3 separate regions of the Homo sapiens genome follow, and regions 1 and 2 are each linked to region 3. The links come from fine-mapping of genetic effects on gene expression. A gene starts in region 3. Each other region holds a variant in brackets. All regions are shown on one strand. Distances are from middle to middle.

What was found. PIP is the estimated chance that this variant, and not a neighbour inherited with it, causes the effect. A credible set is the group of variants that fine-mapping cannot tell apart.
Region 1: its variant is the best candidate, but not a certain one, in a credible set for the expression of HLF in blood mononuclear cells (TOPMed, PIP 0.54).
Region 2: its variant is the best candidate, but not a certain one, in a credible set for the expression of HLF in whole blood (INTERVAL, PIP 0.56).

What each region holds. Positions count from the first base shown.
Region 1 is chr17:55,092,538-55,102,699 of GRCh38, forward strand. The region is part of intron 16 of STXBP4 (syntaxin binding protein 4); the gene reads left to right. LOC107985002 (a long non-coding RNA gene) reads left to right here. Exons shown (of 2, transcript XR_001752943.2): 1 at 1-137; 2 at 1,269-1,656. Among named protein-coding and RNA genes, the nearest start is that of STXBP4, 130 kb to the left of the region's middle. The variant A/G (reference allele first, on the strand shown) is at 5,068.
Region 2 is chr17:55,117,825-55,127,986 of GRCh38, forward strand. The region is part of intron 16 of STXBP4 (syntaxin binding protein 4); the gene reads left to right. Among named protein-coding and RNA genes, the nearest start is that of HLF, 140 kb to the right of the region's middle. The variant G/T (reference allele first, on the strand shown) is at 5,939.
Region 3 is chr17:55,260,171-55,270,332 of GRCh38, forward strand. HLF (HLF transcription factor, PAR bZIP family member) reads left to right here and starts at 4,790. Exons shown (of 4, transcript NM_002126.5): 1 at 4,790-5,429; 2 at 7,581-7,916. The coding sequence starts at 5,315. RefSeq lists a silencer at 4,594-4,913.

The DNA of each region.
Region 1 (10,162 bases), 170 kb before region 3:
ATTTTTACTCAACCAATTGAAAAATAAGACTGTCAAGCAGTGACCATCTGATTGCATGTATTTGTCTGTGCAAGTCTCCTGCATCACTTCAGATGTTCCTATCTGAAATCAGCAATATATTACCTTTTAAGAAGAATGTGAGTAGTAGCTGCCTTTTTTCTGTTACATCTGAAGCTAATTAGAAGTTACTTAAGCAGATTAGAAAAGGTTTTATGAGAAAAAGGGGAAAGGCAGTACTGTAACATTTTAAAGGCCTTGATGGGATTTATCTTTTAAATTCTTCCCTTCTTTAGGAGCTAAAGCTTAGACTTGATATGGCGTCTTCTCATTCTACTTATTCTGGACCTCAGACATTCATCATTCTTTTCCTCATTTCCCCCAGAGCATATATTTATTAAGAAGCATGAATTTATTAAACAAAAAAACATTTTTTTTGTTTTTTGTTTTTTGTTTGTTTTTTGTTTTTTGTTTTTTGGAGACAGGGTCTCTCTCTATTGCCCAAGCTGGAGTGCAGTGGCGCAATCTCGGCTCACTGCAACCTCTGCCTCCTGGGTTCAAGCGATTCTCGTGCCTCAGCTTCCCAAGTAGCTGGGATTACAGGTGTACTCCACCATGCCCAGCTAAGTTTTGTATTCTTAGTAGAGATGGGTTTTGCCACATTGGCCCGGCTGGTCTTGAACACACACAAGTGATCTGCCCCCCTCGGCCTCCCAAAGTGCTGGGATAATAGGCATGAGTCACCGCACCCAGCCAAAACTGTGTTTCTTTAATGAAAGTCAGCTATACTATTAATATTTAGAATGGACATTATGGTATTTTCCTCTACACAAAGTAATTATGCTATTTCTTCTCCTAGAATTGGGGTGATGTTCCAAGCATTAGATAATAGCTTATTATATGATTCTGTGTCACTTGAGAGAAATTTTACCTGTTTTTGTAAAACAGCCCTGTTCTCTGGTGACTTGATTATTCAAAGCCAGATAATAACCACAACAAATATTTGTGGCATTTTGCCATTCAAGGAAATGGCGAACTCACATATTCTCCTGTGTTGTTTCAAACTGAAAGTAGGTCACTGTTGTAAGGTTCCATTAAGAAAATATATCAAATTTAATCTTGGGAGTTTTAAGTTGGCAAATTATTGCCAGCAACAAGAGAAATAATTCTTTTCCTAGTACAATTTTATTTCCAGAAAAAATGAGTTAAAGAGAAAAACATATCGCTTAAGAAAAGGTAATGATTTACATTCATTATTTCCTTCCTTCCAGAACTATTTGTTGAGTGTCTACAATGGGCCAGACCCTAGGATAACAACACAAACAAGGCCCTTGCTATCAAGCTGCTTAGGTAAATTGTAGTGGGCAGAGATGGACAAGCAAGTTCACAAATAAATAGAAAACGTAATTGTAGACAGTGATGAGTGTTATGCACATAATAAAACCAGATTATGTATTAGGAAAGATGAGTAAGTGGAGATGCTACATTAGATTAATTGACAAATAAGTCTTCTTTGAAGAGGTAACATTGCATCCCAGACTCAGCCAGGAACAAAAACTATGGGAAGGACCTTTCAGGCCCAGTACAAATGCTGTGAGATAGGAACAAACTTGACATACTTGAGGGACAGGAAAAAAAAAAAAAAAAAAGCCAGTGTATCTAATACGTATGAGCAAGCAGGAGAACAGCATGCGATAAGGGTGGATATGTAGCAAGAAGCCAGATAATACAAGGCTTTGAACACCATACTAAGGAGTTTGGATTTTATTTTAAGTGTCGTAGGAAGGCACAAGGAGTAACATGATATGGTCTACATTTTAAAAGATCCTTTGGGTGTTTGTTTAAAACTGGGCTCTAAGAGTAGCAAGAGTGAAGAAAGCAGGAAGACTAGGTGGCTATTGCAGTGATTGAGGTGGGAGATGGTGGTAACTTGGGCTCAGTTTGAAGTAACAGCTAACAAATATTTATTTTTTAAAAAGGATTAGTAGTGTGTCAGCATGTATAACTTTTTGGAACGCCTGAAATTCGGTGTTAATTTTTAAACTTTCCTATTCATGTGCATATTGTTTCAATGAGTAAAAAAAAGTCCGGTAGCACAGACAGATCTGCTGTCATCTTGGATCTTAGACTACCCCATGTTTTTCTATTGTGCCTTCTCTGCACTAATCAACTATTGGATATTTGCTTTTTTCATCAAACAAATTCCTTAAAAAGCGCTGAAATTCTTTAATACCACCAGATACATAGCAGCAATCTACTAATCTGTATTGGTACACAGGAAGCAAACATAGACAGTTCTTCAGTCATAAAAATCAGGAAGCCATGATGTTCCTAGTGTTTAACATACAAAAACAAATATCTAGTGTGAATCAATCCCAAAGCTCCCACATATTGTGAGTTTTCACAGAAGATCATTTCCAAGAAACTATTTCAGGTTTCTGTGATACTTTAATCACATACCGATAGCATTAAGATATGAAGGCACAGCTAGACAAGCAAGACTTAATTCTCACTACAGGCAGGAATATAGTAGTTGTCAAGGGGATTGCAGGATGTGTACTATCTAGTACTTAATCAAGTAAAATCTATATACCTTACTACTAACATGGTGAACAGTCTATCACATTAAATGGTTTCAAGCACAAAGGCAGAAAAAATGCAAGGACTGCTTCTAAGATTGTAGAAGGCATGAGTGGTAAAATATAGTCAATTATCACTTTTTCAAAAGATGAAACTCTGATTCCTTTCACAATTAGAACTGACTATAATGATAGAATGCCTAAAGTATAGTGTGTGTTTCAGTCCTATAACTGGACAAACAAAATGTAAATGATGCCAGAAAGAAACATCCTCCCGCAAGGCCTGAAAATCTCCTCTTCCAAACTGAATGCCTTATTTTGGGTTAGTGGAATAGGTATTTTCCAGAGTTCACATGAGGACAAAGTATTAACAGCTCATCTCAGAAAAGGCAGCAGTACTAAAATGTGTGCAGTAACAGTCTTCATAATTATTTATCATGATAAAATAGTTCAATTCAGATCCAGAAGTTCAGTTCCTGCCTTCAACAACAGAGTATTAATATTACTGTTGCAGGTAATATTTTTAAAAATAACATTGACATAGAAGGTTTTAAATTTTTATCAGTTTTGCAGTTCTAAAGTTCTGTTTTATATTAATATGTCCTCACAGCAACCCTGTGAGAGAGACATTATTCTTTTTAATTTAAACTATATGGAAAGATCAAAGCTCATAGAACTTAATGATTTACTTAAGTCACAAGTTTGGAAAGGACAATGTCAGAATCATAATTCAGGTCTTCTAATTCTCTGTCCAGGGTTCCTAATAAATCCTGTGAGTCTCATAGAAATATAGTTAAGACATGATGTCACAATTGAACTGGTAATTATTTTTTTCTCTTTTAAAGTATATGAAATAGCATGGTGTGTTATAATTGATGGCACCTTAGATTTGGTGAAATATGATGACCTCTCTGAGTATTCGCTTCCTGTCTCTGAAGTCAGGGTACAGTCTTCATATGATTTTCTCAAGGATTAAGTGACCTACTATGAAAGTGTTTTGCTCTGTAACTATAGGTTTATGGGGGTTTTGTGTGTTTGGGTTTTGTTTTGTTTTGTGTTTTTAGACAAGGTTCATGCTGTTGCCCATGCTGGAGTGCAGTGGTGTGATCACAGCTCACTGCAGCCTCAATCTCCCTGGCTCAGGTGATCCTCCCACCTCAGCCTCCTAAGTAGCTGGAACTGCAGGCACACACCACCACGCCTAGCTAATTTTTTGGTATTTTTTGTAGAGATGGGATTTTGCCATGTTGTCCAGGCTGGAGTTTATGTTTTAGAGTTCACTTTTTATTTTAATTCGAATCATTCAATAAAATATACCTCATCTTACCTAATTTTCATGACTTACAAATATTCAGGATAAAGCAATAGATTGCATTGCCTCAAGAAGCTTTAGTAGTTTTCAATCTGCTATAAGATATCTCCCTCATTGATAACATTGATTTTCTCAGGAGATAGGATTGGGAGATTATCTGTTTTTTTATTGGAAACTTTCATATTGCTTTTTTTTTTTTTTAAGAATAAGCATTTGTTACTGCTGAACTTTAAAGCTTATTTTTTTAAGTAAAAGAATTTTTAAGCATCATGGAGATCTCACAGTAAGAAACAAAAGCTCTCTTTGGGACTATTTGCGTAACAATACATAAAAAGGTAATAATAAATGTTCCTAGGTAAAGACCTTAAAACTGGGGATGCACTCCTCCATAAAGTGAGCTTAAACCTCCAGACAGAGTTAATAGCTCTTTGCTCAAACCTGTATTATTGCTCTTTTCATATTGCCTTGTAATTATCTATTTGTATGTTTTTCTTCTCACTGAATTTTGTCCTAAACTGCTTTGCATCTTTAGTGACAAACACTGTGCTGACCTCATAATAAATAAATAATAAATCTTTGTTGAATGAAAAAAAATGAAGATGTAAAGTCAACAACTGAATCTTTAATATTTTTTTTCTGAAAATGTGAGACCTTATCCAACCAGCATTATTGATAAAAATTATAAAGCAATTAGTTCTTGGGACTACACAGTGCTATTTGTGTTTCTCATTTCTTTTATAATAACTGCAGAATCTAATGAAAGTTAAAGTCAAAAGTAGAATAGGGAAAATATTCAGAGTGAGAAAACTTGCTTCTTAGACAAGTTATTTTACAACCTTAAGTAAATTATTCAACCTCACTTTTGCCCCATTTATAAAATGGTAAAAATGATGTATTTGTCTCTAAGCATTATAGGATAAAAATAAAGTAACATTTGTAAAAAATTGCCTGTAGTTGACCGGGCGCGGTGGCTCATGCCTGTAATCCCAGCACTTTGGGGGGCCAAGGCGGGCGGATCACGAGGTCAGGAGATCGAGACCATCCTGGCTAACACGGTGAAACCCCGTCTCTACTAAAAATATAAAAAATTAGCTGGGCGTGGTGGCGGGTGCCTGTAGTATCAGCTACTCAGGAGGCTGAGGCAGGAGAATGGCATGAACCCGGGAGGCGGAGCTTGCA[A/G]TGAGCTGAGGTTGTGCCACTGCACTCCAGCCTGGGCAACAGAGCAAGACTCCATCTCAAAAAAAAAAAAATTGCCTGTAGTTTTTACTACAGATAAATGAAATAAATTAGTTCACACCCTAATTCTATTTTTATCAAAAAAGTAGATTCATTTTTACTTGTAGAGAAGCAGAGTAGTGAAAAGATCATACGCTATAAGGTTCCAATGCCAACTCTATGGCATAATAGATTTGGCTTTGAGAATTCTATAAGCTGGCTGAGTCTCATTTTTTTTCATCTATGAAGATGGAGATATCACCAATCCATAGGGTTGTCCTGAGGATTAAAGCTAATGTATCTGAAGTGGCCAGCTCATTGAAAATATTATGGCTCACATCTGGTAGGTACTTAATATCACCATTATCATCATCATCATTATAATCTTCTTTGTTCATTGTCATTGTGTAAAAGGATTATTTTGTCCTTACAGCCTTAAACCATTCTCTTCCGCACCTCCTTTTTTTTGAGAACTGGAAACCCTGGAAGATAATGAACAATTTCTACTAATGTCGATTTATATGATCTATCGTTACATTACTTCTCTGAGAACACGTGAGAAACCGTGTGCTAAAACCCTGGAAAGCAATTGCAAAGTAACATTTCATGCTTTCAAGTGGCAGTAATTTTGGGTAGGAAACCAGTCTTCAACTCAAATTTACTTAATGGATATAAAGATTGAAATAATAAAGAAGTTTATGTCTAACTAGCAGCCTCAAAGGCCCTCTGGAAACATTTCATACAGTCTTATATATGGAATGAAGGAGGCCTTGCTGAACTTGTTTAGAAAATGGAAATACTAAAATTGCATAGGAATGAGGTCTAAATACCCAGTAGCTCTCTGCAAACCCATAAACTAGATATTCACAGGCATTTCATCCATGTGAGGCAGGAGTAAGCCATATAGCTCTCTGAAGGAAAAGTGTTCCAGACAGAGGGAACAGCAAGTGGAAAGGCCCTGAGGCAGGAGTGTGCCTGATGTGTTTGAGAAAAGCAAAGAGGATAGTTTGGATTGAGAGGTCCAGTTCATTCTGTCGTTAAGCCCTCAGTTTAATTGCCTACTATCAGAAAGGCCTTACCTAATCACCTGTCTAATGTTGACCTTCTCTCCACCTCCAGTACTCTATTTCACTCCCCTGTTTTATTCTCTTCACAGCACTTTATTTTTTGTTTGTTTACTTGTTTATTTTCTACCTCCTTTAGTAAAATGTAAGCTTCTTGAGAACAGTGATCTTGAACGTCTTCTTTACCACAATTAGCTAACACCTAGAACAGTGCCTGGTACCTGGCACATATTCAAGAGACACTCATATTTTTTATTGTGCTTAATATCTGTTTAGTAAGCACATTTAATATTTAACAGATGAATGTTGAATATATATATTTTAATTTCATTTACTTAGGAATGAACTTAAAACAATGAGGCACCATTTTTATTCACCAGAGTGCCATATATTAACAATGATTGGTCATCTATAGTGTTAGTAAATATGTGAGGAAACCAGCATACTCATACACTGTTAATAGTTGTTTACTCGATTCAGCTTTTTTGGAGCGCAGTCTAACTGTGTCTCTAGGAATCTAAATGTACATTTTTTGACGCTTCAGTTTCACTTCCGAAGTCTATACAGAAATACCCATTTATATGCATAAATATAAAGATTATAATGATGTATTGGTTAATGACAAGGATATATTCTGAGAATACATCATTAGGCAATGTCATCATTGTGCAAATATCATATTGTATTCAAACAAACCTAGGTGGTATAGCCTACTATCTACTTAGGCTATATGGCATATAGCCTATTGATCCTAGGCTTCAAGTATGTATAGCAGAAACTGTACTGAATACTGTATGCAATTATAACATAATGCTAAGTATTTGTGTATCTAAACATGGGAAAGGTACAGCAAAAATACAGTATTATTATCCTATGGGATCACTGCTACAAATGTGGTCTGTCATTGACTGAAACATGGTTATACAGTGCATGACTCTACCTACTTGCATGTACAAATAGATCTCAAATAGTCTATTCTTTCCACAAATATTTGTTGAATACAATTTATCAGGCACTAAGAACATAGGCCAGCTTTGCTAATGTCCTTTAGTACAAAGCAAGCAGCTGAAGCTCGGTATTGAAGTAGGTAAAACTTGGAGGAAGAACAGAATCAACTCTTGTGTATATAGATCCTAAGTAGGTACCACGTACCATCTGCTGAGACTTTCTGATTAAAATATTTCTGTCGAAGATTATACCTTTTTTTCAGAGCAACACACCTTATAGAAGGGGAATAAGACTACAGACAAAGTTTCCTGTACAGAAAGTCATGACTATGAGTGAGGATGATACACCATAATGAGCATGAGAGATGAAAAAAGGGAGAAACTAAAGTAAAACCATTAGAGTGAACCTCAACCAGCCCAGGCATAAAAGGAGCATGAATGATGCCTTCTGAAAGTGGATCATTAGTGCCTGCCAACCTGTTGCAATACTGAAGCACTGCAACTATTTTATTATCTGCTGGAATTGTATTTCTACCAAAAGATACTAAAGAGGGTGTGATTGTTTAATTATGTACATATCTGGATATATATTACAGACTCCATGGGCACAGTTTTGTTTTGTCTTGTTTTGTTTTAAACTTGGCTAAAATGAATTTATTATCATGTTTAGAGACTGTGGATGGGAACGTAGCTTGTAGGGTAAGAAATCCTAAAAGGTTAACACTACCGTGTACAATTACTTATAGCCTCAATAAGGAAAAAGCGTGAAAGTACTCAAGTAAATCAAGGGAAGCTTCACAGAATTCTTTGATGAACTTACATGTTTAAACAAATATACAAAAGATGGACAAAGAAACAACCTAGAACTAACAAAAACTTTTACACATAGTGTTAGGGAAGTTAAGGCCAGGATTAACTTAAACTTTGAAAAATAAAGGTGAGAAGAACTACATTTAAAGCAGTAATGACAAAGTAGAAGACTTGGTTTTTAAAGGTAATATAAAGGGGAAGAGTCTAAGTGTTGTGTTGGACAGACTCTTTGGGTGGTTTCCATGATTCCTGTTTCCTGATGTTCATGCCTTTGTGTGATCCTCTCCCTTGGAGTATGTTTGAGACCTGTGATTTGCTTGTAACTATACAATACAGCAAAGTCACAGGTTGTACATGACTATATTGCATGAGATTTTAGTGCCAATTTTGCTGGAATCTTGCACTCTTTACTGGCTTCAAAGACATGAGCTGCTATGTTAGGAGACTCATGACAAGGAGCTGAGGACAGTCTCCGGATGAATCCTTCAGTGCTCCCCAGTCAAGCCTCAGATGAGACCACAGCCATGCTCAACCTGTAGATTGAAGCCTTATGAGATCCTAAGCAGAGGACTCAGCTAAGCCATGTCCAGACTCCTGTCCTACAGAAACCATGAGATAATATACATGTATTGTTTATGCTGCTATATGTGTGGTAGTTTGTTACACCACAATATAAATTAACACCATAAACTATTGCCATTTGCCTCTGTCTTCCCAGTGGGAAAATGACCTTCACAGTGGCAAGGCTAGAATTTTTCCTGGAATAAAAAATATTCTTCTGTTGGAATAAGGGATACAAATTACATTCTTAGGGCTTTTAGGCACTCTTCAGACTCCTTATGAGAGATAAACACCCTCCCTACCCCTTTGACACTTTTCTATCTAATCAAAAGAAATTTGGGGGAATTAGAAGGGTGATTTTTTACCATCTTAATTAAGACACCAGCCTCCAGAACCAAACAGCAGCTGTTGTATTAGAAATACCACTATGAATCTTCCTGAGAGAAATAGCTCTCCCTCCTTACCATCTGATGTTGTCTCATTCAGCTTAACACTTCTAGTACCTATCATGGTGCTTGACACATAGTTGATACTCAATGATTAATGAATGAATTCCTCATTAAGTTATCTCATCCATGCATTCAATAAGAAAGAGGGAAATTCACCCTTTGCTGTAGCACATTTCCTTCTTAGACTTTTGGGAATGAAAAAGCATACATGATATTTATTTATGTACAAGGAAGCATGAATGAACCATGAGAATACAGACATGAGTGAACTGCTTTTGTAAATAAAAGGAGCTTTAAAAACCTAATGTGAATTCTGATTACTTCATAGTTCTCTTTATTTTTTCTCGATCTACAGAGTTGTATATAGTTTTGTTTGAGACATGTTCAGAGTTAGTAAATGCCAAAAGCTTGTCTGATTCCAAATGATACTGACATAATGGACTCATTTGTTATGTCTGTGTTCTCTATCTTTGCATCACATAAAAGTACAAATGTTTTTATAACGACAATAATTGAAAATGAAATGCCTTTATCTTTTTCTTCATTTATTTTTAGCTTCCTTCTTTGTACACCCATGATGAAAACAGTTTTAGCATTATTTATTCCTGTTGAATGCCTGGTACATTGTATCTCGTTACTAGCAATTTGTGAACTCTCATTTTTTTTTTTTTATACTTTAAGCTCTGGGATACATGTACAGAATTTGCAGTGTTGTTACATGGGTATACACATGCCATGGTGGTTTGCTGCAGCCATCAACCCGTTATCTACATTAGGTATTTCTCCTAATGCTATCCCTCCCCCAGCCCTCCACCCCAAGACAGGCCCTAGTGTGTGATGTTTCCCTCCCTGTGTCCATGTGTTCTCGTTGTTTAACTCCCACTTATAAGTGAGAACATGCAGTGTTTGGTTTTCTGTTCCTGTGTTAGTTTGCTGAGAATGATGGTTTCCAGCTTCATCCATGTCTCAGCAAAGGGCATGAACTCATCTTTTTTTATGGCTGCATAGTATTCCATGGTGTATATGTGCGATATTTTCTTTATCCAGTCTATCATTGATGGGCATTTCGATTGGTTCCAAGTCTTTGCTATTGTGAACAGTGCTGCAGTAAACATATGTGTATATGTGTCTTTATAGTAGAATGATTTATAATCCTTTGGGTATATACGCAGTAATGGGATTGCTGGGTCAAATGATATTTCTGGTTCTAGATCCTTCAGGAATAGGC
Region 2 (10,162 bases), 140 kb before region 3:
ATCATCACTTCTACTCCCTTCCTTTCACCAACAGATATTGATTGAGTACCTGTGTGTCAGACACTGTATTGAATGAGGAATAAAACAGACACAGTCTTCCTGGAACATATGCTTTTTAGGGAATAACTGGACATTTTTTTGAAAGCTTACTGATGTAATTACATATAGTGGTAAGTGTTCTAAAGAGCAAAACTAAAACACTACTTATTTATTCAGCAAACATTTTTGAGGGCCTATGATATGTCACGCATTTTGCTAGGCCCATAGTATGCAAGGATGGATGAAACAGACATGATCCCTACCTTTATAGAGCTTATGATTTAAGTTGGAAAAGCAAACAATAAACAGGAAAATCAATATATATATAATTTCAAACTGAGGAAGTGCTGTGACTGTAGTGAACATGTTGCTCTGATAGAAATGGAGGAAGGACAAGAAAAGTCTGTCTTCATAGTAAGATTTAAGTTAAGATTTGAAAGATGAGTAGGAGCCAACCATCTAATGAGTTAAGGAGAAAGCATTCCAGACTGAAGCAAAGAGCTGCCTACTCAAAGAAATGAAAGGAGGCCAGAACAGATTTACTTATTATAACGAGGAGGATTGCAGACAGGATCAGCTTTTGAGAAATAAATTAAAACTTAACTTTGGAAAAAATTAAGTATAAGTTGCCTGTGAAACATTTAAGTCAAGATGTTATTGGCAAGTTGTCTATACCAGTCTGGAGTCAAAAGAAAGGGCTGGGATGGAGAAATAAATGTAAGAATCTTTAGCATATATATGGTTTTTAAAGCTATGAAAGTGGTGAGATCACCTAGGAGGAAAGTACATGTAGGGAAATAAAGAGGATCCAAGACTTAACACTAGGAACCTTTAGAGGTCTATTGAAAGAAGAAACTGGACTAAAAAGGAGTGTTCAGAAAGATAGAAGGAAAATTAGGCAAATGTACTATTATAGAAACCAAGAAAAATGGCTTTAAATACATGTGCTTTTCAGTAGTTAAGTAACTGTCCTGATAGTAATTTTTTAAAATTTTCTCAATAAATTATAAAAGACTCCATCACCATTAGTATTTTTTAGAACCACTTTCTCCAAAAAGTGGAAGCTGTATTAACTGATTTATATATATATATATATAAATATTTTATTATACTTTAAGTTCTAGGTTACATGTGCACAATGTATAGGTTTGTTACATACGTATACATGTGCCATGTTGGTGTGCTGCACCCATTAACTCGTCATTTACATTAGGTATATCTCCTAACTGATCTCTATTTTTAACCCACTTGCCAGATTAGCCAACTCATCCATTCTCGCTATAAAGCACATTGATGCCCATGGGCTTGTGCCTAAGAAGCCTCTCCCTGGTACTACCATGGACTTAAACTGCTACCAGTTAAAAAATATCATTTTTATTTTCAAAAGGATTGGTGCCATTTGTGCTTATTATAAATTAGTTATATGAATATGCAAAGAAAAAGTTGTTTCTACAAAAACTAAGTAGAATGCTTTAGAGAGATCTGATAATGGTGAGTTAATACTACTGATGGATTGTAAAGGAGTCATCTGTGAAAGATTGGGAGAAAATTATAGAAGTCTAGAAGGATTCTGCCCTTGGATTATTTTATAACCATTCTTAATTCTCAATCCACTTTAAAGAAACCCCATCTGGAAATGAGAGCTGATATATTTTTAGTATGATTTCTGAACAATACAAGAACCCTAGAACTAGAAGAACAATACAGAACACTAATCAGAAGTCAGTCAACAAAGACAAGACTTTGACCTAAAAAAGATTGGAAAATGAATATATATTTATGTGTTTTGATTTAAAAATATATAAGTATATAAAATAAAAATATATCCATAAGCATATGACACTGACAGTAAATCTTCTACTGTATCTAATACAGATAAACTTTAACTCAGTTTATGTTCTTTACCAAAATGTATTAATAAGTTATCATTGAATAAATGAAATCTTACAATATTAGTTAATTCCTTTCCTTTCATGCTTCTGATATTTAAATACCTCAAACAAAAAAATGAGTCTTTGGATATTTTGAATTTTCTAACCATATGCATATTGTGTTTCTATAGCTAGCCTTTGTATTTCTTTGCTTTAATTATACAGAAAACGTTTTAAAATGTATTTGATGACACATCACATAAAATCATTATAATCCCACCTTTATTGTTAACATATAGCCACAGTTAAGGTTACTAAAGTGTACTTCTCAAGTAGAAAATATTATAAGTTAAAGGTGTTCTTCCCTTATTTTCTGAAATCCTCTTTAAACTTAATTTCAAGCCTTTCCCAAGATGCTTAGAGGACATGAGAAAGAGTGATTTTTAATACTGCTACCTTTTAAATGTCAGTCTTTATTGTTCTATACATTTAGCTGCAAGCATTTGTTTTTTATCAATAATGTTTTCAAATTAAAATTCCATATTTAATAGTCAAATTGTCAGTGAGCCGTATGGGATGGCAAGTGAGCCCACATCACGTTCACACAAATGTTGGATAACCAAATACAGTGTTGGTAGTACCTACCTATAAATAATTACATTCCATTCTATTATGTGTTGCTTAGGAGGCAGCTTCCTGCCAGAGATATGTACACTGCTTTGAGACATGATTATTATATCTAGCATCAGAAGTCTGAGGTCATCAGATAGGAAAAATAGGAAGACAAATTTTGGCTCAATTGTGAGCAAGTATCTTGGACAATTAGACCCATTCAAAAATATGAAGCTCCAAGTTTACCATCATTACAAACAGAGCCTGGAGAAATCACAAAATACTTGTAGACATACTGGGTAAAAATGGAACTTCTGAAATCTTTTCTAAATGGCTGCTGCAGAGCATTGAGTATTTTGTGCAATAAGCAGAGGTCAAGGGAGTGCATTGGAGACTGAAATCCAGCCCTTGCTGTGTTCACTCAACTGGATGCTCTGGTACAGGACTGTGTTTCCTAGAAGAAAGAGTGTTTTTTTTTTAAGTAATTTGCACAGAAGGAACATTAGCCCTACAAGTTCCATGCCCTCAGAGTTGCATCAGCTCAAAGGAGGCACTATGTTCTAGCCCTTGCACACAGAAGTGGTGCCATTTTCAACACATGATGGAATTTTTTTCTTTAGTTTTTGCAACATAAACATAGGCTAGCAGTGGCCCTGTGTTTATACATGCTGGTTTTTCCTCCCATTTCCTTCCTTCTAACACTAAGCAAATGAAATGAATTAAATATTCAATTCGGAAAATAATTTTTCAGAACCTAGTATGACTGAGGAAGATTCAGTACCCTCAAAGAGCTAGCAGTCTGTGGGAAGAGAGGAGTAAAAGAGTTGTGAAAACTATTGTAATGCAAAGTTTAAGATATTAAGTATTTTATGAATGGTACAAAGAGCTAATAGCTCAGATAAATGAGAAAAAATATTTTAAAATCAAGAAAGCATTTATAGAGAATGAAACATTTAATGTTTGACTCTGAGAAATTTTGAATGGCAGTGATGGAACCAAAGTGAGGTTGGGGTGAATGGGAGATAAAGGAAAACTGTCATAATTGAAAAACACACTGAGAGAGAGATGAGATGCAAGATTGAAACATCTCATTATGTCATTATGAGCAACCACAATCTTGAGAAAATATCTCTGTGAATTATTAACTATGTACCCAATTGTGCTGATACCCTAGAATCCCCAGGGTCTCTGACATACTTATTTCAACAAACCTGGTAACCTTAATATCTTAATTAACCTTAATCCACTCTTCTGTTGTCTTTTTGTTTTTGTTTTTGTAATCTATGGCAGACTTGGTGTTTTGCCCTAGCCAGCCTGTTGTATTAGAAACTGTAAAGTCAGACAGTTGCCCTCTCAGGGGTAGCCTGCCTCACAGAGTGGCCACCCACCCCAGTTCTGGTCAATGAGTTATAAAGTAAAGTCTGCTTAGAAACTTCTGCTTGGGGAAACTTTTAATTAATGGATAAGGACAGATGGAGCTGGGACCACCTCTTGTTCTTTCCTGCCTTCAATACGAATATGTTGCCTATAGCACTGGGGGCTTTTTACGCCCCCAAGACGAAATGTGTAGGGATCAGCCACTTAACACCTAAAGGATACTAGAGTAGAAAGATGAAAAAACCTGAGACCTTCATGCTGTGTCTAGCAACCTTTAGGCTCCTTAAAAATAAATACCTATTTGTTTTCCCAGCTACTTGGGTTATCTGTCATTTTTACCAGAAATCATTCCTAACTAATATGCCACATTTTTTTCTAAATCCCTCCAGACAATATTGCTTTTTAAAAAATGTTGAAGATGTCTTACTTCTTGGGACATAAATCCTCAACAAACCGTTGTTAAACGTTTATTATGCACCAAAGCCTGAGCTGTGTACCAGAAAATGACACAAAGATGGATAAAACATAGTCATTGTCCACAATCATGTTTTCCACAGGAGAATGTTAAGTGCTGTGATAGAAACTGGTACAAACCACAGAAGTACCATAGAGGAGGGGAAGATGAAGTCAGCCAAAGAAATTAGGAGAGTATGCACAGAGGAAGTATCATCTAAGCTGATTCTAGATTGATGAGCAGAAGCTCACAAGGCAGATGAAAAGAAAGAGTAACTCTAGGAAGAGATAAATGAAGGAATGGAGTCTATATTGTACAAATGCAGAGATAAATGAAGGAATGTGGTCTACACTGGCAAAAGCAAAAAGTTGAGTTGGAACATTTTATGTTTACTTTATATCAGATATGGCTATATTTAAAAATGAATTCAGATTTTACTCCATGCAGTTAATTTTATAATTAATAGAAAGCAGTCCATTTAAATTCCATCTAGTTTGAATTTATAAAAATTATAACAAGAAGCACTCAAAAGTTTAGATTGTCAACTTACATATTGAGATATGTGTCTATGTGTGCTAATGGATGACTTCCAAAGCAGATTAAAATATTAAAATTATAAGGGGATTAAAGTAAAAGAAGAAACTTTTAAGTGCTTTTGAAGCACTCTTTTATAAATAAAGTTTTGAGTTACAAGTATTTTATCCAGTCATTAAAATATATCCTTAAAGAACATTATCTCAAATCAAAGTGTACTTAAAAGTAGAAAACCAAATTTTTTAATTAGAAAATCTTTTAGAGATTTTGCTAATTCCTCCTTTGTTTTATTCACATTTATGGGAGTTTATATTCCTTGTAAATGTGTTATCCCTCTCCTTTTTTGTCATCAGTTAAAGCAGACACACAATTTTAAGAAGAAAAGTATGCTCAAATTTTAATCTCAAAACTTGATTTGCCCAGAGAACCCCAAGATCTAACCTAGTAGTTAGATAAGTTCTTGCCAAAGTACTTTTCATATCAGGATCCCTAAACATAGCAGCTTTTGTGTGTGTGTGTCCAGTAACTTGTTAAGATAATTCAATAAAGGGGAAAATTTAAGGGAAGAGGTAGCAGAATTGGTGTCTGGCTTACTTGGTATGATGGACTGCATCAATTAAACCAAATCAATATGTCGAAATAAAAATGGACTATTTATAATTGCATGCAGGTTTTTTTCCTGAATTAATCAGAAATTACTATCACTGGTCAAATGAGAGATAATTCTCATATTTCCTAGCTTCTTGTTATATAGGTTTCTTTACTAAGTGCTGCCAGACGAAGAGAAGAGATAAAAGAGTTGCAATGTAGAAATTAAATATTGTGTTCTAACGTTACAATAATGGACTATATCTGACTGCAACAGCAAGCAGCAATGAGCAACAACAACGACAAATAGAATAGGATGGGCCAGGTGCGGTGGCTCATGCCTGTAATCCCAGCACTTTGGGAGGCTGAGGCGGGCAGATCATAAGGTCAGGAGATCGAGACCATCCTGGCTAAGACAGTGAAACCCCGTCTCTACTAAAAATACAAAAAATTAGCCAAGCAT[G/T]GTGGCCCGCGCCTATAGTCCCAGCTACTTGGTAGGCTGAGGCAGGAGAATCGCTTGAACCCAGGAGGCAGAGGTTGCAGTGAGCCGAGATTGCACCACGGCACTCCAACCTGGCGACAAAGCAAGACTCAGTCTCAAAAAAAAAAAAGAAGATAAAACGAGAAATATGACTTGAAACTCTAATGCATAATACACTTCTAACTGTACTTAACACCTCCTAATTTCTATTAATACCTTTTATTTGATAATGATTGGTTGCTATAAATCTAGGCTATGCTGGATTGTGTCAGCCTAAGATATGACAAGAAGGTCCCAAGCCAGTCACCATGGAAAGATCTTATCAAGGGTGTTTAGGTAAAAGGGACAGTGAGGCCCCATGACACCATGAGAAGAAATAGGAAAACAGCATTATATGGGGACTTGGGAGAATGAGATGGAGGTCCAAATGATAAGACAGGCTGTGAGGTTGGAAGATGTGCAAATTGAGAAAAGATGAGCAGAGGTTCATGATGGATCAGAAAGCTTAGTCTGCAAATAAAAGATATGTGTTCAGGCCTTACTTTTGCATGGTACCTGTTTACATGCTGTTTTGGAAGGCATGACCCTTTAAAGGCATTTGCAGAATAGACTGTGATATTTATTAATAGTTATATATAAACATTTTAAAAATAAGGTAGGGAATACAATGAGATTAAATGGTTTTAGAAACACTGTTTGCCTTCCAGCCTCACAATGGATCTGCTTCAAGTGCTACATTTATCCTTCAAATTTATTTTTTACTGCATTGATTGGTAGATTTTGTTTTTCTGAGTTCAACCTCTTTTAGAGAAGAATATGAGTTTACCTTTACAGTGTAGTCAGACTGAAGTAATTCTGTCAAGTAAGTTGATTTAACAGTGTGCAAAATTTGGATCCATTTTTATTGCTGTATTTGCTCAGGCTGCCATAACAAAATATCACAGCCTGAGAGGCTTAAACAACAAAATTTTATTTCTCACAATTCTGGAGACTAGAAGTCCAAGATCAAGGTGGTGGAAAAGTAAGCGTAAGCTTCATTCGAGATCTCTTCTCTTGGCTTGTAGGTGACTGCCATCTTGCTGTGTCTTCACATGACCCTTCTTTGTACATGCACACAGAGGAGGGGTGGGGTGGCTCTTGTCCCTGTTCTTCTGAGGACACTAACTTTGTGGAATCAAGGTCCTACTCTTTATGACCTCATTCAACCTTATTACTTCCTTAAAGGCCACACCTACAAATGCAGCCATATAGCAGGGGTGAGAGCTTTACCATAAGAATTTTTAGAGGACAGAAACATTCAGTTTATACCAATACTAAACTGTTAAGCAGGTGGTAATTAATCATTGAAAGTTAACGTACAATTTATTCATGTGTGAAAGAAAGGTCTGAGTGCAGCATTTTATACTCTGCACAGAAGCTGCTCTTTTCATTCAGCATTATTGCAGAATGACATAGTGGATGATGACTAAAGTAGAAGTTAGATTACTATGTTTTCCTCTAATTGACTCTATGGCAAAGCTCTGAAACCATTTTTGGTGTCAGTATCCAATTTGTAACATGAGACAATTAGAGGATTTCTAAAATCTCTTTTCACTCAAAAATTCTATGCATCTGAGAGTTCCACTTCCAGTAAGGCTAAGTAAGTTCCTGACAGACTAACCATCCTGCAGAAACCTATTGTAAACCCTGGACAAAATACAAAAAAAAAAAAAAAAAAAAATACAATTGAAGCTTCTGGAAAGTGAATATGACCAGGCAAATTCTGGAGATCTGTCAAAACTTGGAAGAAGGACCCAACATAGGATAAGTTTCCTGTTTGTCCTACTTTTAGATTGTTGGCAGGACCCAGGGCTGGGACTAGGATAAGGCAACAAGGTACCCTGGGTGCACCTCCCTCTTAAGGAGGCTCAGTCTCAAGTAGTGACCCTGAACTTGCATGAGCCTGAGGGAGGGTGTTTCCTTAAATTTTGTATGTAGACACTACTTGCCTCACTCTACTCCAAACCCTAGCAGGACACTTAGAGTGGTAAAACTGATAACTTGCAGTCTTTCTGGCCTATAGAACTAGCATATGAAGTTTGGGACAACTGGAAAGGCAGAGGGGAAATCCCGGAAAGAAGAGCACTGGAGACAGAGACCCCCAAATTCTGCATATAAACTCTGTCCAAGCTTCTGGGTCTGACCCCAAACTACACAAATATAGGGCGCATTGCAAACCACCCAGCAAAGGGGAATGGGGAGGGAAACTGAACTGAGGTTTTAGCTGCTGCCTAAGAAATAGAACTTACTGCTTGAGTCCAACCAACTAAATGACCTGCCAAAACAAAAAGATTAACATGCTTCAGAGTAGTGTAACAGAATCCAGAGTTTTTACAGTATAATGTTTATAATTTCCAGAAAACAATCCCAAATTACTCAGTGTGAAAACAAAAAACAGGAAAATGTAACTCATTCTCAAGAGAAAAGACAGTCAACAGATGCCAACCTCCAAAAGACCAGATGTTAAAATAAGGACTTTAAAGTGCTTGTTATACCTACATGCAATGAAGCGAAGGAAAACATGCTCATAATGAATGGAAAGAGAAGATCTCTAAGCAGAGAAATAGAAATAATTGTGTAAAACTAAATGGAAATGCTAAAAGTATAATACCTTTTAAAAAATCAGAACAGTTGGCTGCCTCTTGGGGCACAGAAGTAGAAATAAACAGGAATGGGATATTTCTGGGGTGGTGGTAATATTCTATACCATGATTGGGGTTTGGGTTGCACAGGTGTAAGCATTTGTGAAAATTCAGTAAATATACACTTAAGATTTGTACATTTCATTGTAAGCAAATTTTACATCAAAAGAAAGAATTTCTGGATAGATCTCCCAACTGAAGAAATCCCTAAATCAAAGACCTGCTAACAGCTAGACAAGGAGATTCTGGTGCGTGACTGTTGTCTCTGAAATCATTCCAAAGTGCTTACTGGGTTTCTATATTCCATAGTGATGAGCATTGCAGGTAGAAGGAACAGTATCTGGAAAAGCAGAGACGAAAAGAAGTCTATAGCATGCTCCAGGAAATAACTCAGTGGATGACATTAAGTGGGACTGACACAGCATAAAGATGAAAGGAAGATTGCAGCCATTTTGTAATGGGATTTCTCATACTGCAGCTTTTTTAATGGGATTGCACATACTACTGGTTCAGGATATTTCCCCTGCTTTTTAAAATTGAGATATAATTTACATACAATAAAATGTAAGTGTACAATTCACTGAGTTTTGACAAATGTAGACAGCTGCATTATACTACCACCATCATGCCCTAGAATATTTCCATCACCTCACAACCTTTCCATGTGCTCCTTTGTAATCTATTCCCTGCCATCCCTTGTCCCAGGCAGCCCTTGATTTGCTTTCTATCACTGTAGTTTTGCCTTTTCTGAAATGTGGAATAAATAGACTATTAAGTTTCTAGCTTCTTCCACTCAGTGTAGGGCTTTTGAGATTCATCCTTGTATGCGTAATGTTGAGTGGTATTCCATTATATTGTTATGCCACAGTTTATCCAGTCACCAATTGATGGATCTTCCAATTGTTTTCAATTTGGAGCTAGTATGAATAAAACTGTTGTGAACATTCAAGGATGTGACTTTCTGGGGATGCATGTTTTCAATGGTCTTTCAAGATTATTGAAAACATGGATTGACATATGTTAATCCATCCATGGATGGATTTAAATGATTAAATTTTTTGAGTGATAAACTATACAGTCAGAACCTATATTCTTTGCAGAAGAGAAAAAGCAAAATTGGGGTCACTTTTATTTAAGTTTATAACTCTTTAATGTAATGATTATTGAGTTATCTAACTTCATGAGAGCTATTATTTGAAAAAATAACCCTCTATGAAGGTGTTTTTATTGTTTTTCTTTAAATCTTTTTAAAAACACATTTAAAATTTTCAAGCATCCTCTTAAAGGCAAATGTCTTCAGGGATTTTTTATGATTTTTTTCCACATTTTACCTGAAAGTAATGTGAGATTGTTAACAGATTTTCAGATAAACTTTTTTTAATTTAAAGGACAAAGATAATAACAACAAATGCTACATGATTAGGGATCAGTGGTGTTTAGAGTTTCATTATGTATGTTCATTTATATTCAAGGTCGGAAACAGCAATGATCTTGACTTCATTTCATCTAGTCTGTGACAGCATTT
Region 3 (10,162 bases):
CTCCAGAGCTTCTGCTATTCCTTTCTCCTTGAAGGGCCAACTGAAGGGTTTTTCAGTGGCTTGTCAAATGTTCTTTATCTAGTATTTGTTTGTTCGAATTTCTCTAACAAAGAGGTTTAGTTTTGACTTACTGTTTAAGCACATGCAGGTTAAGACAGGAGCACTGAGGCATTACTAGTTGTAACCAAAGACATCCAATAGGCTTAATTATTTGCTCATACACAAAAAAGCAAATTGGATAATGCCTCTGCTTTTGGCTCTTATCTAACTTAATGTGGACAACTTTGTAGAGGTCTTGTCAACAAACTGAATGAGCCACTGAAAGTGAGGCATTCATTTTAGCCGTAAACTTTGGTGAACTTTTTTCTGTTGCTGGATATGAATCAGATCCCAGGAAACTTAGAAAGAACATAGAAATAGCATTATTCTGTCCTTAGTGATAAAATACCCATTTTTCCTCGGGATCAAAAGTTTGGGTCACCCACAAATACACAGTCAAATAATTGTCAGCAATAACATCAAAAGAATTCAAGGGGGGGCCGGGCGCGGTGGCTCACGCCTGTAATCCCAGCACTCTGGGAAGCCAAGGTCCACGGATCACCTGAGGTCGGGAGTTCGAGACCAGCCTGGCCAACATGGAGAACCCCGTCGCTACTAAAAATATTAATACTAAATACTAATACCCCATCGCTACTAAAAATACTAATAAAAATTGCCGGATGTGGCGGCTGGTGCCTGTAATCCCAGCTACTCAGGAGGCTGAGGCAGGAGAATTGCTTGAACCTAGGAGGCGGAGGTTGCGGTGAGCTGAGATCACGCCATTGCACTCCAGTCTGGGCAACAAGAGCGAGACTCCATCTCAAAACAAAACAAAACAAACAACAACAACAAACAATTCAAGGGGGAAATGAAAGTCTAAAACAATTGGATATCCCCATGAGTAAAACCAACCTTAATCCTTACCTCATAGTATACACAAAAATTAATTTGAAATGGGTCATAAGGCTAAATGAAAAAGCTTAAACTATGAAAGTTATAAAGGAAAGTATAGGAGAATATCTCCAGAACTCAGGAGTAGTCAAAAGTTTCCTAGTTCATAGCAAGCAATAATCATGAAAAACAAATTGATAAATTGAACTTTGTCAAAATTAAAAACTGCTCATGGAAAGACGTTATTATAAAAACTAATCAGCAAGCCACAGATTGGAAGAAAATATTCACAACACACAAACATCTGACAAAGAGACTATCCAAAGTATATAAAAGAACTCCTAAAATTCAGTAATCAAAAGATAACCAAATTCAAAAATGGGCAAGAGACTTGAACAGGAAGATGTACAAGCTACTAAGAAGCACATGAAGTAGCACATGCCATCATTTTTCATCAGGAAAATTCAGATGAAAGGTCCATTGAGAACTGACTATCCACCCACTAGAATGGCTACAAGTTTTAAGAGAAACTGACACCACTAAATATTGGTGAGGCGCTAGAACAACCAGAACTCTCATATACTGCTGCTGGAAATGCAGGACAATTTACCTGCTTCAGAAGACTATAGAAGAGCTTCTTCTAAAGTAAAACACACATCTTTTCTATGATCCAGTAATCCTACTCCTATTTGTTTATCCAAGAGAAAGGAAAGCATGTGTTCACAAAAGAACTCAGACAAGAATTCTCATAAACATTTTATTCATGCCTAAAAACTGGAAACAACCCAAATGTCCACCAATACAACAGATAAACTTTTGTATATTCATAGAGCGGAATACTACTCACTAATATAAAGAAATGAACTATATGCAACATTGGTGAATGTCTAAAATACTGTGCAGAGTGAAAGAAGCTACACACAAGAGAGTATATACAGTATGATTTCACTTGTATGAAATTATAAAACAAGCAAAATGAATCTATGGTGTAAGGAGGCCATGTAAAGAGAAAGAGAAGGCCAGCCAGCCCAGTATCCCAGCTGAGCCTAACCTAGATTGCAGAATAATGAGAAATAATAAAATGATTGTTGTTTTAAGCCACTAGGTTTTGGAGTGATCTGTTACACAGCAATCAATAATCAGCATCATTGCTTTCCTCATGGAATTGTCAGAAGTATGTGATATGACACATATGGAAGGGCTCTGTAAGTGGACAAGTGCTAAGCACTTGTGAGCGGCAGTTATCTCTGGGCATATGTGCAGATTGGGGTTAGTGCTCATTAGGGATATGTCCATTTGAGAATTAACCTGTGGAATTCAGAGGGTCTTACTACCCAACCAATATAACCTTTGGTTTCTTCTATCCCTCTCCTTCCTCTTGAGCAGCCATCCACAACTGCTTCTGGGGAAGAGAGAGAGAGAAAGAGAAAGAAAGATGTTCATGGTTTGTTAAAAAAATAAAAGAAAATAACATTTACAAATGGCCAGAGTAGAAAAGATGTACCAATTTCATTTATCTTGTTAAGGAATGGGGCTAGATTGAAGATTAGCCAATGCTTATAATTTTTGAGGCTCTAAGAAATACCTTTGAAGTTAGAGAAGGATGGAGAGAAGTGAGAGGGAGTCACCATGGTCTAAGGGGCTGGTCCTCAATCTGGTCCGTGACATGTTGATCAGGCTCAGGGAAATTAAATTAAATGAACCAAATTCCCAAGAAACTGCTTGATCAACCAGAACGCCAGTTTATCCACTTGCAATGAGAAATGCAATTTCCAAGCCACAGTATTTGGTTCTGTCAGGTGGTAAGGAGAAGATTACCCTGGGAAACCAGATTACTTGACCTGGTAAGAGTTTCATGTCTGGAAACATGGGGAAGTGAGGACATGCGGAGAATCATGAGCAGGTGGAGCACTTTGGGCGTGCTGAGTAATGTCAGTGGACTGTTACACAAAGCTTAGGTAACGCATCTTTCATGCACCTGGAATCTGCAATCTAACAGATTTCTAACCAGGCTGAGAGGATGCTCTCAGTCCTGCCAGTTTATGGACTTACAGGGATGTAAGGAACTCAAGACAGGGAAATAGCCTCTGTCTCCAAAAGGATAGCGGAGATGAGGTCCCTTTTTTATTTTTTAAAAAAACAATATAATATAATTGATGGATTCAGACCGTTCACGAGAGACTATTACCTCCACGCCCAGCTCAGGCACCTTCTCTAGAATCCCTTTCCTAATAATGTAAGTGCCCCTGTCACCTCCATCTATCCATTTTTGTTCTTTTAAGCCTATTTTATATTATTTGCTTATATGCCAAACCCTAAACGATGAGTTCTTGAAGGTTAAAATTATGTTTTATTCATCTTTTTTCACTAGCCCCCGCATAGTCGCTGGCATACATACCGTGGTGCTCAATAAATGCATGTGGCATTAACTAAAAGTTTGCTGTTTCTGGAATTCGTCTGAAACCTGAAACACTGCAACAACATCTCACTTAGAATGTTGCCTTACCCTTTTGCCATAATTTTAGAGTGAGGAAGTAGAGGTCACTAGATTACGTGTCCTTTTATGAAGAACCTACAGCTCAGGGCAGAAAGGCACTTGCCGGAATCACCCTGCCAGGGAACTCTGAACCCCGCTGCGCCGCCGCTCCTGATCTCTGGGGTTTCAGGCGCCTCCTCTCTTACAACCCTCTCCTGGGGAAGTAAACCCCATCAAGACACCACCACATCCTTCCCCAGCGACTCAGCCTGGGGTCACAAAGGCCTTTACGTCCCACTGAAAAACGGTTTTCTTTCATTTGTGCCCATTCGTTCTTGCAGCCCCTTCCCCAGATCGAAGACTAGGGTCTTAGTAAGGAGAGGTAAGGAGGGAGGGGAAGAACCTGCCTGGCCCCCCGCGGAGCTCTGCAGGGGGCGTCGCGGCTGCACGCCAGCGCCCGCACCACCCCAGGCGGGAAGGGAGTTATCACACAGGGGGTCGCACGCAGATCTCGGGGACCGTGGGTGCCACGAGGTCAAACTGGCAGAGGGAGACGCTGCAGCTGCTGTAACAGCAAGGAAAGCCGAAGCCCCCTTAGGGGATACTTTACAAAATTATTTTAATCACCGTGCAAACCTAATAACTTGACCCAAGCGCAATCACCTGTATTCACCCAGAGTAAATATTCCTAAAATCCCGTTCAGTGTGTCTGTGTCTCTCCCGCCTCTTTCCGTTTCAGGCAAATGTCTACCCCCCCTCTCCCCCCACCGTTAACACCTCTCTGCAGCGTGGGAAACAGTGCCCAGCAGCTCAGTCCTCCGCTTCCCGCTCTGCTTTTTGCATCCCATTCGGACTTATAGGAAGTAGTTATTTTTTGGTGGTGGTGGAAACTGGGCAAGAAAGAAGACGCTAAGCTTGGCCGGGGCCAGGAGAAATATTGAGAAGGGTCGTTACCTTCCATCCGATCTAAACCAATCATCTCAAACTTGGCTACTCTTTGGAACCACCTGGGGAGCTTTAAAAATTATGGACGCCCTGATAGCACCGCAGAGGTTCTGATCTAATTGATCTGGGATGCGGCCTGGGTATCGCGATTTTTTTAAAACTCCTCAGGTTATTCCCAGCTTGAAAACTATGGATATAAATTTCTCATTCCTCTTCCCACCCAGACCAAAAAAAAAAAAAAAAATCTAAGCCTAAGTTGATGGCCCAGGGAATCTGGCACCTGCTCCCCTGCAACCAGCCAGTGCTGCAAGGTCCCCGAAAATCGGCGCGAGCGGCGACGCTAAACACGCGGCGGCGGGGCGAGCGGGCCAGGCGGGCGGTGCCGCGCGTGGCCCCGCCCCCGCACGCCTATGGGCGCGAGGTGCGGGCCCTGACGTCACTCTTGTCAGGGCCGCGGCACATGGGCGGCCGGATGCGCTGAGCCCGGCGCTGCGGGGCCGCGGAGCGCTGGGGAGCAGCGGCCGCCGGCGCGGGGAGGGGGGTGGGGTGGGACGGCGCACCGCCTCCGGTGCTGGCACTAGGGGCTGGGGTCGGCGCGGTGTCTTCTGCCCTTCTGCAGCCGTCGACATTTTTTTTTCTTTCTTTTTTTCAATTTTGAACATTTTGCAAAACGAGGGGTTCGAGGCAGGTGAGAGCATCCTGCACGTCGCCGGGGAGCCCGCGGGCACTTGGCGCGCTCTCCTGGGACCGTCTGCACTGGAAACCCGAAAGTTTTTTTTTAATATATATTTTTATGCAGATGTATTTATAAAGATATAAGTAATTTTTTTCTTCCCTTTTCTCCACCGCCTTGAGAGCGAGTACTTTTGGCAAAGGACGGAGGAAAAGCTCAGCAACATTTTAGGGGGCGGTTGTTTCTTTCTTATTTCTTTTTTTAAGGGGAAAAAATTTGAGTGCATCGCGATGGAGAAAATGTCCCGACCGCTCCCCCTGAATCCCACCTTTATCCCGCCTCCCTACGGCGTGCTCAGGTCCCTGCTGGAGAACCCGCTGAAGCTCCCCCTTCACCACGAAGACGGTGAGCGCTGCCGCGGCCCCGCTCCGGGAAGGGACGACGCTCCGGGGGTCCCCCTCCGCGGCCGGGCACGCCCGCTGGAGCATCCCCCAACCCCGCTCCCGCCCTGTCCCGCGGCGCCCCGGCCCCGCGCTGATGAAATTGAGGAGCTCACCCAGCACCCTTCCTCCCCTTCCTCCTCCTCCATGAAAGGGGAGGGACCCCTCCTGAGCTACATTTAAAAGAGCTTCGGGCACCCGGCCTCCCTGGGTCCCGCTCCTGCGGCGCGGGTGGGAGGTGTAACTTGACAGGTCAGGATCGTTCCCTAGAACGAGGCACACCCGCACGCAGAGCGAGCCCGCCTGCGGAGGGCAGAGCCTCCCGGGCTGGGGAGGAGAAACCCTGGGGCCTGGTTCTGTGCGGGGCAGGGGGCGGGGGTCGGCTTGAGGGAGGGGGTTTCACTGCGTAGCCTGGGTTTTGGGGTTGTGTTACAGCTTCTGTTACTGGTTAGTATTTGGAACTCACGAGGTGTGAGAGAAGACTCGTTTTCTTCTGGTGAAGGGTAGCTGAGAAAGCGGGGTGGGGGCTGGGGCCGGTGGGGGGAGTGGTCTCTCGGCGGGAAGCCGTGCACGCCTCCAGCGTTGACACTTTCCCGGTGCACTTTTTCTGGTGGGAGGGGAGAGCGGAGCAGGCTCACGTGTAACCGCGCAGGAGCCTCCTCTGGCTTGAGCCCTTTCTTGGTAAGTCCCAAACCTTCCCAAGACAACCTTGGCCTTAGCAGTAGAGGAGGGGTACGTGTGATGAGGCCCCAAACCCGGCTAAGTGATGCCACGGATTTGGGTTGATGCGATTTCATGCCTTCGGTATCACAGTAGCAAATGCGAACCGTGCGGCTCACAGTGTAAAGTTCTGAAAGGTTATTTGGCTACAAATAGCTTGGGAGTACTTGCACCTTCTTTTCTAGGAGAGGACAACCTGTTGCATTGCAAGAGTTTGCAATCTGCAGATGATAGCCAGGGACCCCTCCCTAACTATCCTTTAAGGAAGAGCATTTGGGAGGAAGGGGCTGCCTGCAGGCTTTTGCATCTGTGGGTGTTTTAAGTCAGATTTTCAGATGAGATGGTAGAGGGTTAGAATGGATGGCAGTGGAGGCTGTGTTTCTCTGAAGATGAAACTCAGAAGCAAATTCCTTAATCCCAGATTCCACCCACGACTGAATACTAGAATTGGCAAGATCCGGAATGCTTGTTAAAGACCTAATGGGCGAGCAGTACTTCCAGGTAGCAAATAGCTGCATACTTCCAACATAAATGTATAGAATAACTCACCTTTTCCAATAGCTCTGCTTTTGAAAGGTTTTGTAAATGCATACTCTTTGTAAATTGGATCATACTCAAATGTTTGGAGAAGAGAAGGAAGAAAACACTTTGTATTTTTTTAAACTCCTTTTGTAAAAATCAGTGTGCCCCAGTGGCTTTAGAAGCAAACACATGTGAGCTCAGAAAGTTCTCATTCTCTGCCAACATGAGGCATTGGTCAAGTTCCCTCAAGTCTCAGAGCCTCCGAGTCTTTGTTGTAAATGGAGGTAATTGTTATTTTGCAAGTTTATTGTGAGATTTTTGAGATAATATATGGAAAGAACCAGGTATCCAGTAGGTACTCTAAACATGATGTTAAAGAAGGGTGGAAGGTCCCTGCTTTACCAAAATTAAGACCACTAACTCACTGGCTTTGTAAGTCTGAATGACCTCCTATTGCTGCTGTGATGAATTCCTGGAAGATAATTCAAGCCTGGTTATTGGCTGTTGTTTTCTTAAAAATGACAGCAGTTGTATATAATCACAGATGTTATATTCCTATTTTAGGTTTAAGTTATTACTCTTCTCAAATAATGTGCTGAGACTGTTCTCTGGTTTTTATCCTAGATCAGCCTGTAGCCCTGCCCCAAGGACTAGTGCCTTCTTTCCAAAGTAAATAGGAAGATGTTGAAAAACAGGCAGAGATCCACGTCCTGCCTGAACTTTTAACTCTAGATCTACAAAAGACAGCAGCCAGAGAAGGACCCTGCCATTCGTGAGAAATAGTCTTATAACAGGCCAGGAAAAGTGATAAAAGAGCGGTATTGTTTTTCTTTTCTTTCTTTTTTTTTAAGTCCAGCTTTCCCTTCTTCTGCAGCATTTAGTAAAGATAAAGACAAGGAAAAGAAGCTGGATGATGAGAGTAACAGCCCGACGGTCCCCCAGTCGGCATTCCTGGGGCCTACCTTATGGGACAAAACCCTTCCCTATGACGGAGATACTTTCCAGTTGGAATACATGGACCTGGAGGAGTTTTTGTCAGAAAATGGCATTCCCCCCAGCCCATCTCAGCATGACCACAGCCCTCACCCTCCTGGGCTGCAGCCAGCTTCCTCGGCTGCCCCCTCGGTCATGGACCTCAGCAGCCGGGCCTCTGCACCCCTTCACCCTGGCATCCCATCTCCGAACTGTATGCAGAGCCCCATCAGACCAGGTAAGTGCCCTGAAGATTCTCCCTTCAGAAAGGGAGGAGGAGGGTGAATGGGACAGGCAAGGTAGAGTTAGCATAAACATCTTAACACTCAGGTTTTAGCAAAGATCCTAAGAGAGGTACCTTCTTCTGCTCCACTCCTGGCAGAGGCTCTCCCACTTTAATGAGCATCCATATCACTCATCTGGAGAGTCCGGTAAATACAGACTCTTTGTATCTACCCCTAGAAATTCTGATTTTGCAAGTCTGGAATGAGGGCCCAGGAATATGCATTTTAACCAGCTCCCCCATGGGATTCTAATGCAGCTGATCCAAGGGCTGCAGTTTAAGAAATAACTTACAGTTAATGATTTGGATAATTTAAGCCTCCATCGCATCTTGTATCTCTTTTCCTCATTCCCTAAACACGTAGATAACAGGTAGACTCTCAATAGGGTTTGGTTTACCTATATTCACTCTTGTCTGTCCTGAAGGAAAAAAAATGTGAGTAGGGATATGGGGCAGGTATTTTTTTTTCCATCCTTTTCATCTTGTTTTGTCATTAGCTGAGAAGTAGAATCTAAAAGCAGGCTCTCATATTGTGTTTCTGAGCCTTCTTCAGGACCAGACTCCATCTCTCTCGTTGCTATTCCCATAAACCCAACTGTTCTTATCTTTTTTTTTTTTTCATTTTCATCTGTCTATCACACTCAGTCCACCTGTATCAAAGCCCACAAGGCTGCAAGGTCAGCTGTAAATGATCTTGAAATAGTACACAAAAATATCACCTGAAATGACCAGTACTTCAAAACCCACTGCTAATGCTCAGATATAAACACAGATTGAAGGAGCTTTGAATTCATGCCTTTAGCACCCTGTAGTACCAAATGAACAGGAAGAAAGACGATTTCATGTGCACAGGTAACCAGGAACAAAGATTCAGCCAGATAAATCATCCGGAAGGTCACAGAGCTGAGGGCCTTAGCTGTGGGGGAAGACAGAAAGCAGGACAATGCGAAACTTGTGCTAGAGATTGTTACTGAACTCCGTGTCCTCGACTCTTGTAGAAATTTCTGTGGCACATGGAGCAAGATTTAAATGGAAGGAAATGATGTAAAGGAGGAAGAGAATACCCCTGCCTCGATATATTCATATTGAAGTTCCTCCTTTCAGACCTCTGTGTGCTGGCCCCTTCTCCAAAATTCACTTTGAATTATAACTCAAGGCCACTGGCTGGAATGGAATTAATTCTTAGCCTCCAGCCACCCCTGGAGGCTGTGGGAGCTTGGGAAAACATGCCTTTATGTGATCCTGATCCCCTGCTACTTAGAATGTGCGGTACCACTATCTTCAATTTTTTTGTAGGAACAAGCAACAAAATGAATAACCCTTCAAAGTGGGAAAACAGCCAGGAGAGAAGGGAACAGAGCCCCAGTGAGAGACACAGTTATGCCTCGGTCATTGTGCTCTGTAGACTGAGAATCACCACTTTGTAGCTGTGTGACCTTAGAAAGCAACATCATTTCTTGGAGCCTCAGTTTCCTTTTTTGTAGAAGGATACAATTTCTATTTGATTGAGTTATTGTGAAAATTAGAGATAATACGTATAAAGGGTCAACTGATTAGCAATGAGTCTTCTATTTGTGGAAGCAATTGTGATCATTGTTGTATGTGTCAACTTTTATTACTTATTTCAATCCCTGTCTTCTGAAATATCTTCGTAAGGTAACTAGGTACTGTATATAACCCTTCCTCTGGAGAGAAATGTCAGGAGATTTTGCCCAGTAGTTACTGGATTGGGGTATTTTGACCAACACTTGTAATCAACTGACAAGTATTTCTTAGTCCCCTACCAAATTTAGGATGTGTACCATGTTAGGAATACTATATTTTTTCCCAGGAGACCTGCACATATTGGGTGTTCACACCTTGGTTCCTACTGAGAGTCAAAAATTGGGGTTTTGGGATTTGAAGCAGCTTGAAAACTCATTTGTCAGAGCTCATTAGAGTCAGTATTGATCAGTGACTCTCAGAAGGCTTGGAATGCCCAATCAGAGTTGCAATGCATAGCAAAGAACTCCTGAGTTTCAGGGGATGTCATTTTGTAAGGTTCTGGTGGAAAGACACTGGGATCAAAGGGAACACTGAGGGTCTAGAAATAAGTTCTCCATTTAAATGTCTTATTTTAAATAATGGAAACACACTTCAACATAGTTTCCTTCTTGGAGTTGAAAACTCGATAGTCCTCATAGAAAAGGAAAAAAGTTAAA